Linked DNA regions of Homo sapiens. The protein of the gene in region 1 interacts with the protein of each later gene in a pairwise test. Each region holds a gene or a part of one and is shown in the gene's direction. Other genes may lie near its edges.

Region 1 (7,112 bases):
GCCCTGGAGGAGGGGGTTGGCCAAGTAAAATCTCAGAGCAGCCAGCCGGTGCCTCAACACACTGGTCCCACAGTGTGGGAGGCCGACGCCAACAGTGCTGATGCCAGCCCCAGCACACAGGCCCACGGTGTGGGGGACAGGCAGAGGGGAATCCTGGAGTCGTGGAGGAGACCCTACCATACCTCTGGGTTCCCAACTGCTGCTGCGAAGCTGCCTCTGGCCCCTGAGCCCTCTGAGCTGCAGCCCCGGAGTTGCGGGGCCCAGGGTGTGTGGGACCCCGGTTCTCAGGATCCTCTGCTTGGTAAAAGGCAGGTTGCATTAAAAGGCACCTTCCTGTCCACTCCTGTCACACCACATGGAGGCAGCATTTTTTTCGTTTTTTGTTTTAGAAAAGCAGCCACAAGAATGGATGGTCGTTATCTGGGCCAAGACCTGGCAGGGATTTTATCTCCTGCTCACTATGGCAGGCGTTGTCACTGTCCCCTGCCTCCGTGGGGGCAGCCAGTGGGGGAGGTAGTATAGCAGAGGGACTAACATGAGCCAGACAGACCTAGGTTCTGGCCCCGCCACTTCCAAGCATGTGACCTCCAGCCCAAGTCACTCCATTTGTCTACCGCATTTTCAGGGAGACAGGCAGCACGGACCTCCCGAGTGTTTCTAAGGCGATGGTGCCCATGGGCCCCTCATATGGACACTCAGCTGACCGTGACGAGTGGCCACCAGAGTGTGGAGTTAGCACCAAACTGCCTGGGTGTGGTTCCTGGCTCTGTGCCCACTAGCTGTGTGATGTTAGGCAGGTTACCAAACCTCCCTGTGCTTTATTTGCCTCATTTGTAAAGAGGGTATTAAGAGAGAAAATGAGTGCTCGCCCCAGCAGCACATATACCAAAATTGGAATGATACAGAGAAGATGAGCACGACCCCTGTACAAGAATGACCCACATATTCGTGAAGCCTTCCATACTTAAAAATATTTTCCAAAAAGAGGATAAAGGCTGGGTGTGGTGACTCATACCTGTAATCTCAGCACTTTCGGAGGCTGAGGCAGGTGCATCACTTGAGGTCAGGAGTTTGAGGCCAGCCTTGCCAATATAGTGAAACCCCATCTCTACTAAAAATACAATAATTAGCCAGGTGTGGTGGCAGGCGCTGGTAGTCCCAGCTACTTGGGAGGCTGAGGCAGGAGAATGGCTTGAACCCGGGAGGCGGAGGTTGCAGTGAGCAGAGATTGCACCATTGCACTCCAGCCTGGGCAACAGAGCAAGACCATGTCTCCAAAAAAAGAAGAAGAAGAAAAAAAAAGAGGGATAGAGAGAATGGGTAAAGCACTCCAAGAAAGCCTGGCACATGGAGGACATTTGAACATAGTGTTTGCCACTCTTGATTCTGAGACCTCAGGCCCACCCAGAGTGCTGGGGTACTAGTAGCTGCCGCTGCTTACTAGCCAAGTGAGGAAATTACCTAACCTCTCCAACTCTCAGTTTCCTCATCCCTTCTCATAGGTCCATGAGGATTATATGTATTATCCTTGCAGCTGCCTGTGCAGTAGGCACTGCTGTTTCTCCCATTTACATACGGAGGCTCAGAGAGGTTGATTGACTTCCCCAAGGTCACACAGCAAAGAAGTGGCAGAGCTATGAGTGGCACCAGGGTTTGGCTGGCAAGACCTGGGTTTGGCTGGCAAGACCTGAGCCTGCCTTGTCTGGCCACTGTAACTGCACAACCACCAGAAAAAGGGCCAACAATTTGGAGAGGCACACAGGCTGCCTCATTTCTCCCCTGCCAGGACCTGGGCAGGGGTGGGGTCAGATCTAGAGTGATTTCTGCAGTTTTTTCTGATTCTCACAGCAGCTTGGTGAGAAAGGCACACAGTCCCTGCTTTACAATTAGAAGCCTGAGACACAGAGAGGTTAAAAAAAAAATCTTGCCCAAGGTCACCCGGCTGGTAGGGGGCCAGGAAGGACTTAAACCCACGTCTGTGGGTTTGCAGACAGCTGAGCAGTCATGGAGGCTGTGGCTTGGAGTGGGCAGTGTCGCAGGTCAGCTTGTCACCTGGGTCCAAAGGTGGGGAGAGGCCACTCAGGGGTCAGAGGTTGGAGTGGGCGTAGGATTGGGTGGGGCCTTGGGGGACATGGGAGGGCATTGTGGGCAGAGGGCAGGGCTGTGCCTCAGTTTTCCAAGCCTCTTCCTGTGCCACAGTGCCTGCAGGAATGGGGAGCATGGCCAGGAGGTGACGGGCCAGGGGGACTCCCCATTCTACTTCCTGCTGCCCTGGGGAGCACAGGGCCTGTCAGTCTTCCCTAGGCCTCCAGAGTAAGAGGTGAGAGATGGAATAGGTGCCCCCAGGCAGAGGACATGACCAGCAATAGTGTACATAGCAGGTGTCGACCAGGTCAGCAGGTACCCAGAGATGAAGAGATGACCACTTTCTCCAAGGGCAGCCAGTCAGCATGCAGGGCCATCAGCATGGGCTGGGGTGAGTGGCGTGTTCCTTCTTCAGCAAGACAGGGAGAGGAAGCCGGATAGGAGGCAGCTACTGACGTTGACATGCCCACCTCCTGTAGACCCACCCGGCCCTTGTTCCTGGAGGCAACCAGTTTGGGGCTTGGCTCTCGGGTATCTGGGGAGCAGGACACTAGGGCTATCTCAGGCTCTGTGCCCTGACCCCACCCTTGCCCAGGCCCTGGCAGGAGAGAAATGGGGCAGTCTGTGTGCCTCTCCAAACTGTTGGCCCCTTTTCTGGCAGTTGTGCAGTTATCGTGGCCAGACAAGGCAGGGTCAGGTCTTGCCAGCCAAACCCTGATCCCACTCATAGGTCTGCCACTTCTTTGCTGTGTGACCTTGGGCAAGTCAGTCAACCTCTCTGAGCCTCCATATATAAATGGGAGAAACAGCAGTGCCTACTGCACAGGCAGTTGCAACGATAATACATATAATCTTCATGGATTTGGGAGCATAGGCACGCAGCAGCCCCCTTCTCTCTGTGGCTCCTGCTCTCCCAGCCTTGGGCCCCCTCCTCTGCTTCCCTCTCTGGCCTATTTCCTCTCCTCCTGTGCACTTCTTGGCCTTTCTTCTCCTCTGCTCACTCCACCTGCAGGCCTCGGGCGAGCTCGCCACCCAGATCCTTGCTGCCCAGGAGAACAGGGCACGGAGCCTGAGATAGACCTAGTGTTCTGCTCCCCAGAGACCCGAGAGCCAAGCCCCAAACTGGTTGCCTCTGGGAACGAGGGCCGGGTGGGTCTACAGGAGGTGGGCATGTCAATGTCAGCAAGCTGCCTCCTAGCCCCGCTTCCTCTCCCTGGTGGTCTGGAGCCCCTGGCAGCAGGGTGAGGGTGGGGAGGGCAGAGCTGGTGTGTGCCTGACCATACCCCTGGCCCTGCTATCTGCCCAGGGCCCCTGGCCCCCGGCCCCCAAACTCCATTTTCAGCATGTGGGGAAACCCCCTGTATCTGCGTGGGCAAGGTGGGATTTTCATCCCTGGTGGGTGGAGAAGGAGCAGCCCCTTGAAGCAGGGTGATAACCCAAGTTGCCCCAGAAAGCAGCAGCTCCCCAGGCCTCCACAAGGTTAAGCGATGGAACCTTCCTAATGGGAAGGCTGGGCGTGGGGGTCTGGTCCCCAAGATGTTGGGCTTGGGGCCCTCTCGGGCCCTCCATACTCCCCAAGGTGTGGGTCAAGGGCTCTAGCTGTCTGGGCAGTGCCCATGCACCCTGCCCTGCCCCGCATTGGTAAGCTGTGCATGTCTGTGACGACCCTGTGTGTACCTGACATGGGTGAGTCTGTACGTGTGGTCTCGGCTTTTGTATTCGGAGGATCCCGTGTGAGCTGCAGCTGTTGGCGTGTGCCTATGTGCTGGGGGCGGATGCAGGGGCTGGGGACCATCAAGGATGATGTGTGGCTGGGGTGGGAGGAGCAGTGACAGGGCTGGGGCAAGGAGGACTTCAGAAGCCAATTGGAGCCAGGCTTGTCTCCCAGCAGCCAATATGGGAGCTGGGGCTCCTGGTAAGCGAGTGGCTGCTCAGAAACCCTGCGGGGAGGAGGGGCTAGCTAGGCTGGGCCAGGATCCCTGTATAAATGGCCCAGGAGCTGTGCCCCATCACAGAGCCGACCATCTCCCACTCGAGCTGCCCCCGCCCTCTGGACCCGAGTGACTCAGGCCTTTGTTTGTCCTTCCTGGTAGAGGCGGGTTCCCTCCCTCGGCAAGATGCCGGAGTGCTGGGATGGGGTGAGTGAGGGCGCTGCGGGCATCAAGGTGGGCCGGGAGGATGGTGCATCCTTATGACCCACCGCAGGGAGGAAGTGCCCCCCTCAACCCACATCTGGTGGCAGCCCGGCCTTCAAATAGCCTCACCCTGGGGTCACTGAGACACGGCCAGAGTGCTCCAGGTTCCCTGGTGATCCTGTTTGCAGGAGTGGCTGGGGGCAGCTGCTAGTCAGAGCCCATAGCAGGGGCTGGGGGGAGCGTGTGGTTGGGGGGTGGGTGACATATCTGCAGGAAATGGAACGTGGAAGGCACTGTCTGACTTGGCTGCATTGCCCGTGTGGACCCGGGCGCTAGTGCCTGCATGTCCCTCTGACCGTGTGCCCTCTGGTGTGCGCTTGGATGGTGTCTGCCTTGGTGATGCCTGGGGCCATCAGGCCAGGGGGCGGGGGTGTCCTTGGTGAGCCCCCGAGGCTGTGTGCCCAGTGTGCGTGCCGGGTCTGTGCGTGCAGGGGCTGCCGTCCCAGTGGGCGGCCGTCTAGCTTGTTTGGATGGCTGCGCCAGTGTGATGGGAAGGACAGGCGGCCTCTTCCTTAGGAGCCACCTCACAGTTCCCAGGGCTCTGCTGCGCCAGCCGGGCAGAGGCAAGGAGGTCTGGGCCACACAGGAATGACAGCCTTTCAGGCAGGGGTCCCTGCTGGGGAGGAACGAGGAGGGGTTGCCTGCCTGCCTTATTTTGTAGGTGGGGGAAGGCAACGCTGGAGCCGTGAAGCTGGCAGGGCTAGGGGACCCCAGGTGGAGCCCAGGGCACCTCCTCTCGCCGGGGCATCAGGTACCCCGGCCCCATTCTTCCTCAGGAGGGAGAGGCAGGGGCAGACTCACCCCCACCCCCGGGCCCCACACGCCTGCCCTGCCGGTTCCGCAGACGATAGGTCACCCCGCACGCACGGAGGTGACGACGTCAGCACCTGCCCGCCCATGCAGACCCTGTCCCCTGAATTATTGATGCGGCTGACAGGCCGAACCACAGCACCACCAGCACCAACTCCCACACCGGCGCAAAGCCCGGCTCAAAGCCCCACTCCCCTCCAGTGCTCAAGGTCACAGGCGAGGGGAGACGGACCGACCGAGAGGAGCCGCCACAGCCCCCTCCCCTGCTGCCGCAGTGCTTCCCGCCTGCGCCTACCTGGAGGCGGGGCCGGCTCTGACGTCACCCAGAGCCAATGGGAGTGCTCGGCCCTGAGGGTTGGGGGCCTCAGAGTGCACCGCGCTGTGGCCCTTGTGGGGCTGCCCTTGCGCAGCGCTCCAAGGGACGGGGATGTTTGGCTTCGATCAGGCTGAACTGAGTCCTGAGCTCTCCGCAGAGGGTGAGAGAAGGCGTTAGGGAGGTTCGCAGCAGGGTTCAGCGAAGGTCACTGGACTTCGTAGGACAGGTAGCCCGGTGACGCCCAGGCCCAGCCCCAGCCCTTCCCATCCTGGGAGATGAGCCCTAGTAGAGCCTGATCACGTCACCTCAGGGGGATGGGGACAGGGGCGGCCACACCAGGGCTGGGAGAAGACAGTGGGGCCTCCTCAGCAGCAGAGAGCAGACACCCCTCACACCCCTCAGGCGGACCCGCACGCTGCGGGTCTGGGTTTGGAAGGCACCGCCCTGGGCTCTCGACGTCTGACCCCAGGAGGATAACTGTCCTTTATGCAGCAGGAGGCGCATTGCAGTTCTTTTGCAGCCCCACCCTCCAGAGCTGAGAGAACTCACAGGTGGCTGTGAAAGGGCTGCCTGGTCAGGAGCTCCCTCGGGTGGAACCTGATCTCCTGTGAACATGCAGCCTTCAGTGCACCGCCCTGGCCCCTGAGACTGGCACCTGGCAGGGCCTGCCCTCCCTACTCTGGGATTGACCTTGGGCAAGTCATTTCCCTTTCCTAGCCTCAATTTCCTCCTCTATGGCTTGGGCCTATGTGGGAAGTAAATGAGAAAACTGTGGGTCAGTGGTCAGTGGCGGGGAAGTGTTCCTGGATTTGATGGGCCCCGAGAAAGGATAGGCCTGGGATGGGAGGGGCTGTGTGGTCTGTCCCCTCTCAGCCCTGGTGTGGCCTCCTCATCCCCTGGGTGGTGCAATCAGCCGCATGGCTCACCCTAAGGCTCATTACCTGGGCTCTCCTGGAGGACAACAGGGAAATAAAAAGGGCCTGCAAGTCAAAGAGTGTTCTCCAGGGTAGAGCCTTTGGCCACCAGGTTGGTGCCAGCTTGTCACTCCACACTGGAGACACAGGCCTGGACAGTGGTCCTCTGAGACCAGACCCACTAATGCTGGCCCCTGAGCAGCTGTCTTCTGCTGTCTAAATCTCCTTTCCCATTTGGAGGCAGGAACTCAGGTTCTTTCTAAACCAAAGTGTCCTCACCTGCAAAACAGGGACTAGGGTTCCTGTCTCTTGGGTAACATGCAGGAAGCCTGGCACACAGTAGGTGCTCAGTCGCTTGATGTTTCTTTCATGTCCTTGACCCCAGCCCCACCTCCAACTCACTGGGCCACTCACGTGGTTCCCAGGGCTCACAATGATGCAGAGAGGATCGGTTTATTTAGCTCAGATGGCCCCTCTTGAAGTTTGCCCATCCGAGTGGCTAAGAATGCCCAGTTTGCAAAGGAACAGCGAGAAGGGCATTCTCCCAAGGCTCAGGGATGCCCTAGCATAACAGCCCCCTTTCTGGGGCTTTCTCCAAGTGCTAAATGCTCCACAAACATTGGCTTGTCTAGTTCCCGCAAAGTCCCTGTGAGGTGGTTCTGGATGGAGAGGCTGAGGCACAGCAGAGAAGTAACATGACATGCTCAGTCACAAGTAAGGGGTAGAACCAGGTCTTCCTGAGGAAGTAATGACCTTGAGCAGCAAAACCAAAGGTGTGAACTCAAGAGGATC
Region 2 (7,025 bases), on another chromosome or scaffold:
AAAATAAAAATAAAAATAAAGAATAAACGGGATTTTTTTTCACCTTCATTTTTAAAAGTTATTTTTATTGTGGTACAATACCTAGAACATAAAATTTACCGTTTTAACCATTTCTAAGTATGCTCTAAGTACATGTCATTAAGTACATTCACAATGCATGGCCACCATCCATCTCCAGAATTTTATCTTCCCAAACTGAAACTCTGTATCCATTACACAATAACTCCCTAATTCCCCCTCCCTCCAGCCCCTGGCAACCACCATTCTGCTTTCTGTCTCTATGAATTTGCCTATTCTAGGTACCTCATATAATTGGAATTATTATTCCAGTGTTTGTCCTTTCATGATTGGCTTATTTTACTTAGTATAATGGCTTTAAGGCTCACCATGTGGTATCATGGGTCAGAATTTATTTCCTTTGAAAGGCTGAGTTATACGGTGCCTTGTGTGGATATGCCACATATTGTTTTCCATTCATCTATTGATGGACATTTAGGTTGCCTTGACGTTTTGGCTATTGTGAGTAATGTTGCTATGAACATAGATGTACAAACATCTCTTTGAGACTCTGCTTTCAATGCTTTTGATATATACCCAGAAATGGAATTCCTGGATCACACAGTAATTCTGTTTTTATTTTTATTTTTTGGAATTGCCATCCTGTTTTCCTCAATGGCTGCACAATTTCACATTCCCACCAACAGTGCACAAGAGTTTCAATTTCTCCACATCCTCACCTATACTTCTTATTTTCTGTTTTTTAAATAATAGCCATCCCAATGGGTGTGAGATGATCTCATTGTGGTTTTGCTTTACATTTCCCTGATGATCAGTAATGTTGAGCATCTTTTCATGTGCCTGTTGGCCATTTGATTTGACTTCTTTTAGACTGATTAGCTTTACCATTCCATTTGTCTTTCTCTTCTAGTTTAGGTGCTATACATCTTGTTTCTGTTCTTTTAGTGATTATGCTAGAAATTACAACACAAATCCTGGGTCTTGAAGGTTACCAAGGTAGCTTCAGTGTCCAACAGGGCGTGATGCCCACAGAGGTGCCTAAGACATTCAAATATGTTCAATCCAACAGTTATAGATTAAATACTAATGATATGATCTTGGGCTGTCCTTGCTGTGAGATCCTTGCAGCCTCCTTACTATCTAGTAACAGAGATAAACCAATCATTCATTCAATCATTGTCCGCATTTTATGTGCCAGTGCTGGACATATACACAGATCACTATAATGTAAGACAGACTGTGGTGAGTGAAAGAGCCATGACAAAGTGATATTAGGGTATCGGAATAAGAAATTATTACATAAGTTGAACAGATCAGGGGAGACAGGAAAGGGAATCACCGTGGAATGGCAAACAGGACATGAGTTCTGGAGTTCATCAGACTTAGATGGCAATTAGCTATGTGACTCCAAGCAAGTACTGCAATCCCTCTAAGTCTCAGTATCCCCATCCTCTCAGTCTGGTCCATGGGAAATGCTCCTACAGAAATGTCTGCCTTCCTCCCTTCCTTCCTCCTCTTCTTTCTCGCCTATCTTTCCTTCCTCCTTTTCTTTCTCACCTTCTTTCCTTCCTTCCTTCTATCTTGCTCAGAGCCTCCCTCAGTGCTTCCCCTCCTTCCCAAATGATGTTCAGAATCATAGCTGATTACTGAGCATTACTGGAAGTAATGGGGAGGAAATAGAGAAAATGGAGGAAAGGCAGAGGGACAAGAAGGAAGGAGGAAGCAAGAAGAGAGGAACGAGAAAATGGCTTGGAGGAGATTTGGAACACAAATATTCATGTCCTTAAAATTAGGCTGTGGCTCTGACAGCCCCTCTGAGAGCCAGCTTTCATTCAGAGGATGGCTTTCCCTCATCTCTTCCGGGCTTGTATCACCATCCCCCTAAACTATCTCAATATCCTTTTTCCTGATCGTCTAACCTCTGATCTCCACCCTCTCCAATCTATTCCAGTGCTTACTTCTGGAGGTCTTTCAAAAGCATCTTTTTTTTTTTTTTTTTTTTTTTTTTTTGAGACGGAGTCTTACTCTGTTGCCCAGGCTGGAGTGCAGTGGGGCAATCTCGGCTCACTGCAACCTCTGCCTCCCGGGTTCAAGCAATTCACCTGCCTCAGCCTCCTGAGTAGCTGGGATTACAGGTGTGTGCCACCACACCCAGCTAATTTTTTGTTTGTTTGTTTTTGTTTTGAGGCAGAGTCTCGCTCTGTCGCCCAGGCTGGAGTGCAGTGGCGCGATCTCGGCTCACTGCAAGCTCCGCCTCCCGGGCTCACGCCATTCTCCTGCCTCAGCCTCCCGAGTAGCTGGGACTACAGGTGCCCGCCACGATGCCCGGCTAAGTTTTTTGTATTTTTTTAGTACAGATGGGGTTTCACCGTGTTAGCCAGGATGGTCTCGATCTCCTGACCTTGTGATCCGCCTGCCTCGGCCTCCCAAAGTGCTGGGATTACAGGCGTGAGCCACCGCGCCCGACCATTTCTTTTGTATTTTTAGTAGAGACAGGGTTTTGCCACGTTGGCCAGGCTGGTCTCGAACTCCTGACCTCAGGTGATCTGCCCTCCTCAGCCTCCCAAAGTGCTGGGATTACAGGCGTGAGCCACCGCCTCAAAAGCATATTTGATTACATCCCTCTCCTGCTCAAAAATAGTCAGTGGTTTCCCATTGCCTAAGTGATGATGTATAAAGGTATCAGACTGGGCATTCAAAGCCCTCCTCCATTCTCTGGTGTTAACCCCTTGCCAGCTCGTCCTCCTACTCTTCCCTACGTGATTGCCTTGCGTTCCAGGCAATCTATTCACTAAACAAACAGGAAATGTACTCTCCCACTCCTTCACCTCTGCTCCCACTACTCCCACTACTCCTGCCAGTGGAAAGATGGCATGATAGCTCTTCCTGGACTATCCAGGGACAGCGCCTCCTTTTAGATATTACTCAAGTCATATCTTCTCTGTAACATTTTCCAGACAACCCAAGACTATATCGCCTCTGAAAGTCTAGAGCATTTTGTAAGAATGGCTGGGTAGCAGCCATTATATCTTTGGTGCCCTCTACCCAATAAGCTCCATGAGAACAGGAGCCCTTTCTTATCATTATTATATTTCATGCAAGACCAAGCTTGACACTAACTTGAAGGTCTTCCAGATTTCTTCTTCCTCAGCAGAAATCTTTAAATTCACTCTTATTCTTTTTTCTCTCCCTTGGACATCCTTTTTGGGTGTGTGGGCCTGCCCTCTTTCTCTGGTTTCTGGTACTGTAAAAAATAGAACAGGTTGGGTGCAGTGGCTCATGCCTGTAATCCAAATATTTTTGGAGGCCGAGGTGGGAGGATCGCTCGAGCCTGGGAGTTTGAGACCAGCTTGGGCAACACAGTGAGACTCCATCTCTACAGAAAAAAAAAAAAATCAAAAAATTAGCCAGGCATGGTGGTGCATGCCTGTGGTCCTAGCTATTGTGCAGGCTGAAATGGGGGGCTCCTTTGAGCCTAAGAGGTAAAGGTTAGAGTGAGTTGTGATCACGCTATTGCACTCTAGCCTGGGTGACAGAGTGAGATCCTGTCTCAAAATAAATAAATAAAAATAGAACATAGTCTTCAGACCAGTTCTGTCACTTACTTGCTATGAGACCTTATGCAAGTGAGTCTCTGTTATTTTCTATGTGACCTTGAGCAAGTAAGTCATTCACCCTGTACCATAACAGAAACAGCATAGTACCTGCCTCTCAAGACTGTTCCAGAGATCTTTGAGGTGAGAAAATCCTCAATACATGTTAATTTTCTTCCTTTTAACTACCGAAATTGACTACTTGGAGCCCAACCACCACACCTGATAAGATACTACCAACCTTGTCAATCTTGCCACTTGATCAAGAGAGGAGTGACAACCACTCCTCTGAGGCAGACACCTTAGACACTGACTTTATTACATCTTCAGGAAGAATAATGATAACTAAAGCAGATACAGGCTTTTTCTTTTTCTTATTTTCTTTCTTTTTTTTTGGAGACAGAGTCTTGCTCTGTCTCCCAGGCTGAGGCTGGAGTGCAGTGGTATGATCATAACTCACTGCAGCCTCGAACTCCTGGGTTCAAGCGATCCTCTTGCCTCAGCTTCCCGAGTATCTGGGACTACAAGTGTGCACCACCATGCTTGGTTAATTTTTAAATTTTTTTGTAGAGACGAGGTCTCACTATGTTGCCTGGGTTGGTCTCGAACTCCTGGACTCCAGGGATCCTCCTGCCCTGGCCTCCCAAAATGCTGGCATTACAGGAGTGAGCCACCATGCCTGGCCTAGACTTTGATGCATTCCCAGCATTCCCACATACCCCATCACGGCATCTTTCATTAATCCCCTTCCATCACCCCAGCATCAACTCAGCTGCGTTGGGCTGAAAAATTCTACCTCCTTGGTGACTTTCAAATTGGTATGTGAAATAGTAGCCTATTTCAGGTTCCCATTGGCTTTCATCTGAATGCCAAAACTCTTAGCTGATCTCTTTGCCTATAGTTTCTCTTGCTCTCACAGTTATTCCAGATTATCTTCCTGAAACAGACACGATCATGCTACTCTTCTGCTCTCTGCTTACTAACCTTTACTGGCTATTCATTTCCTTCAGCATCAGGCCTAATCTCTCCAGTTTCCTTCCCAGCTTCATCTCCTGTACCACGGCTTCCTTAGGCTGCCTGTGTTTTTGCAGGTAATGATGTTACTCCCAGGCCTTGGACTCTCCCATCTCCTGGACTTTGTTCAGGCTCTTCTTTGTGCATGGAGGACCCTTCCTCTACCAATCCATCTGACAAAAATCCTACCTTTCCTCCAAAATTCAACTTTGAACCTTATCTTTCACAAGAAACCCAGAGCTTCTCCAAGACAGGAATTTTGTTTTCCACACGTATTAATGTGAGTTAATACACATGAGGTACTTAAAATAGTTATTGGCACATAATGAATGCTATCTACTTTTTTTCCTACAGCTTGGAGTAAAGATACATGATCTCTCTGATTCTTAGTTTCTTCATCTGTAAAACGAGATAATAAAATTATCCACCTATGAGGACTGCAAGAACATTAAATGAGATAATATACATTAAGTGCTGAACAGAGTGCTGTTTCACAACAAATGGTCAATACATGGTATCAAGGACCATGCTTGCATTATTTTCATCATTTCCATATTTACTCCTTTCACCCTCCCCTTTCCAGTTCCCAACCCTGTCCCCATGGCTTTTAACATAGAGATTTCATATGAGGTAGGCTCATCAATGTTTACTGAATTATTAAATTACCTGTCACTCCTACAAGTTCTTATATTTATAGTTTATTTGGATCCAACAAGTAATCACAAAGCCACAGAAATTCCTCTTTGACAAACTACTTTTGTTTTTTTTTTGTTTTGTTTTTTTGTTTTTTTTTTTTAAATTTCTGAAGGCATTGAGCCAACTGACTAGATTAGGCAAGCATTGCCAACATTCAGATTTAGGTCATTGCCCCGAAACATGAAACATAATGTTTTCACCCATAAGAATTATAGGTTTTCACCTTACACTGGAAATAACTCGTTGCCTATATCCTTACACACACATGCACACCTTATAACTTCAGATAGCCTTTCCTTGTTTGGAATACGGTTTCTCTTCCTATTAACTTTCACCTGCAACTTGGAGAATTGTGAAATTGAACTTCTTCCTTTACTATAATTCAATGTAATGAACATTTATCATAAGCTATCTCTCTGTGTTTGGCACTGTGCTAAAGGCCAAACTTACTGTCTGATAGGGAGAGAGACAGACATATGAGGTACTAATTACACCATCAAACAAAATGAACCAGAACCAGAAAGAAGCACGAGTAATGTCTTGGGAGTGTGCAGAAGAGGGAGTCCTCAATTCTGACCGGGAGATGAGCAAAGATATCACAAGGAAGTGTCATTTGAGCTAAACCATAAAGCCTGAGAGAATTTTGATAAGCAGAAAGTTGGAAAGAGAGTAATAAAAATAAGGGAACAGTATCATCAAAGGCACAGAAATGTGAATTACATGGTGAGTTGAGGGAATGGGAAGTAGACAAAGGTGGTCGGGCCCGTTTCCCATACTTTAGCCATTTGTGTCCCATCTTCTGGCTCTTTCCACAGCTGTGTACCACCTATGCTATTATTACTTAACATACTTTTCCTTCAAATTAAGTCATCTCTGTAGCCTAAATTAATGTATTTTAACAGGAAATTTTATATCGCTACCATGAATTTGCTTTTATTCTCTATGCATTAAAATAACTTTTTATCCATACACCACCTTGGATCATCTAATGTCCCTACAGGGCATGGGAACACTAGGCTACGAAACACTTTGAGAAATACTAGGCTGCAGCATAAGGAATGTGAGTACGGCTACTGAGAGATGAGGCTAGGAAGACACGTGGGGCTAGGCCAGTGAGGGCCTTGAATACCAAGCCAATGTGTTCAGACTTTATTCTGTCAGCAGTTGGAAAATATTGATGGTTTTGGAGGAAGCAAACAACATTATGTGATTGTGCTTTTTAAAAATTTCTGGCAGAGGTGTGGGAAATGGATTGGAGGGGAAGAAACCCATAGCTGAAGGGCAGACAAAAGGCTGCAGTCCAGACTAGAAAAAAATCAAGTCCTGGACCATAGCAGTAGCAATGGGGACAGAGGCAGGAAGACGGATAGGAGAAGTTTTTTGTTTGTTTGTTTGTTTGTTTGTTTGTTTGTTTGGAAAGGGAAAGAAGTCAAAGATGGCCTAAAAATATTGAACCTATGACATTTATCTTGAGGCCTGAAAGATGAATAGGAACTAGCCAGACACAGAGCTGAAGAGAGAGTTTTCCAGGCAAAGGGGACCGCAGGCAGAGAAGCCCTGAAGCTAGAGAGCACTTGAAGGAGCTGAAAAAAATAGCATGGTGGAATGCAAAGAACAAGGTGGTGGCCAGAGACTAGATCACCAAGATCTCCTAACCCTTCTAAGCCAGGGTTAGGAGACTGGACTTGATCCTAAGGGCCACAG

Evidence for each region.
Region 2: the proteins of NDRG4 (region 1) and DGAT2L6 interact in binary tests that used the Homo sapiens proteins (3 or more experiments, as listed by UniProt).

What each region holds. Positions count from the first base shown.
Region 1 is NC_000016.10:58,496,047-58,503,158, forward strand, and holds the start of NDRG4 (protein NDRG4), read left to right. Parts: upstream 1-4,096; 5' UTR 4,097-4,202; coding exon 4,203-4,223; intron 4,224-4,941; coding exon of another isoform or gene 4,942-5,031; intron 5,032-7,112. UniProt on the Homo sapiens protein: Contributes to the maintenance of intracerebral BDNF levels within the normal range, which is necessary for the preservation of spatial learning and the resistance to neuronal cell death caused by ischemic stress.
Region 2 is NC_000023.11:70,180,470-70,187,494, forward strand, and holds part of DGAT2L6 (diacylglycerol O-acyltransferase 2-like protein 6), read left to right. Parts: intron 1-7,025. UniProt on the Homo sapiens protein: Diglyceride acyltransferase that uses fatty acyl-CoA as substrate. Particularly active with oleate as a substrate. Has no wax synthase activity to produce wax esters.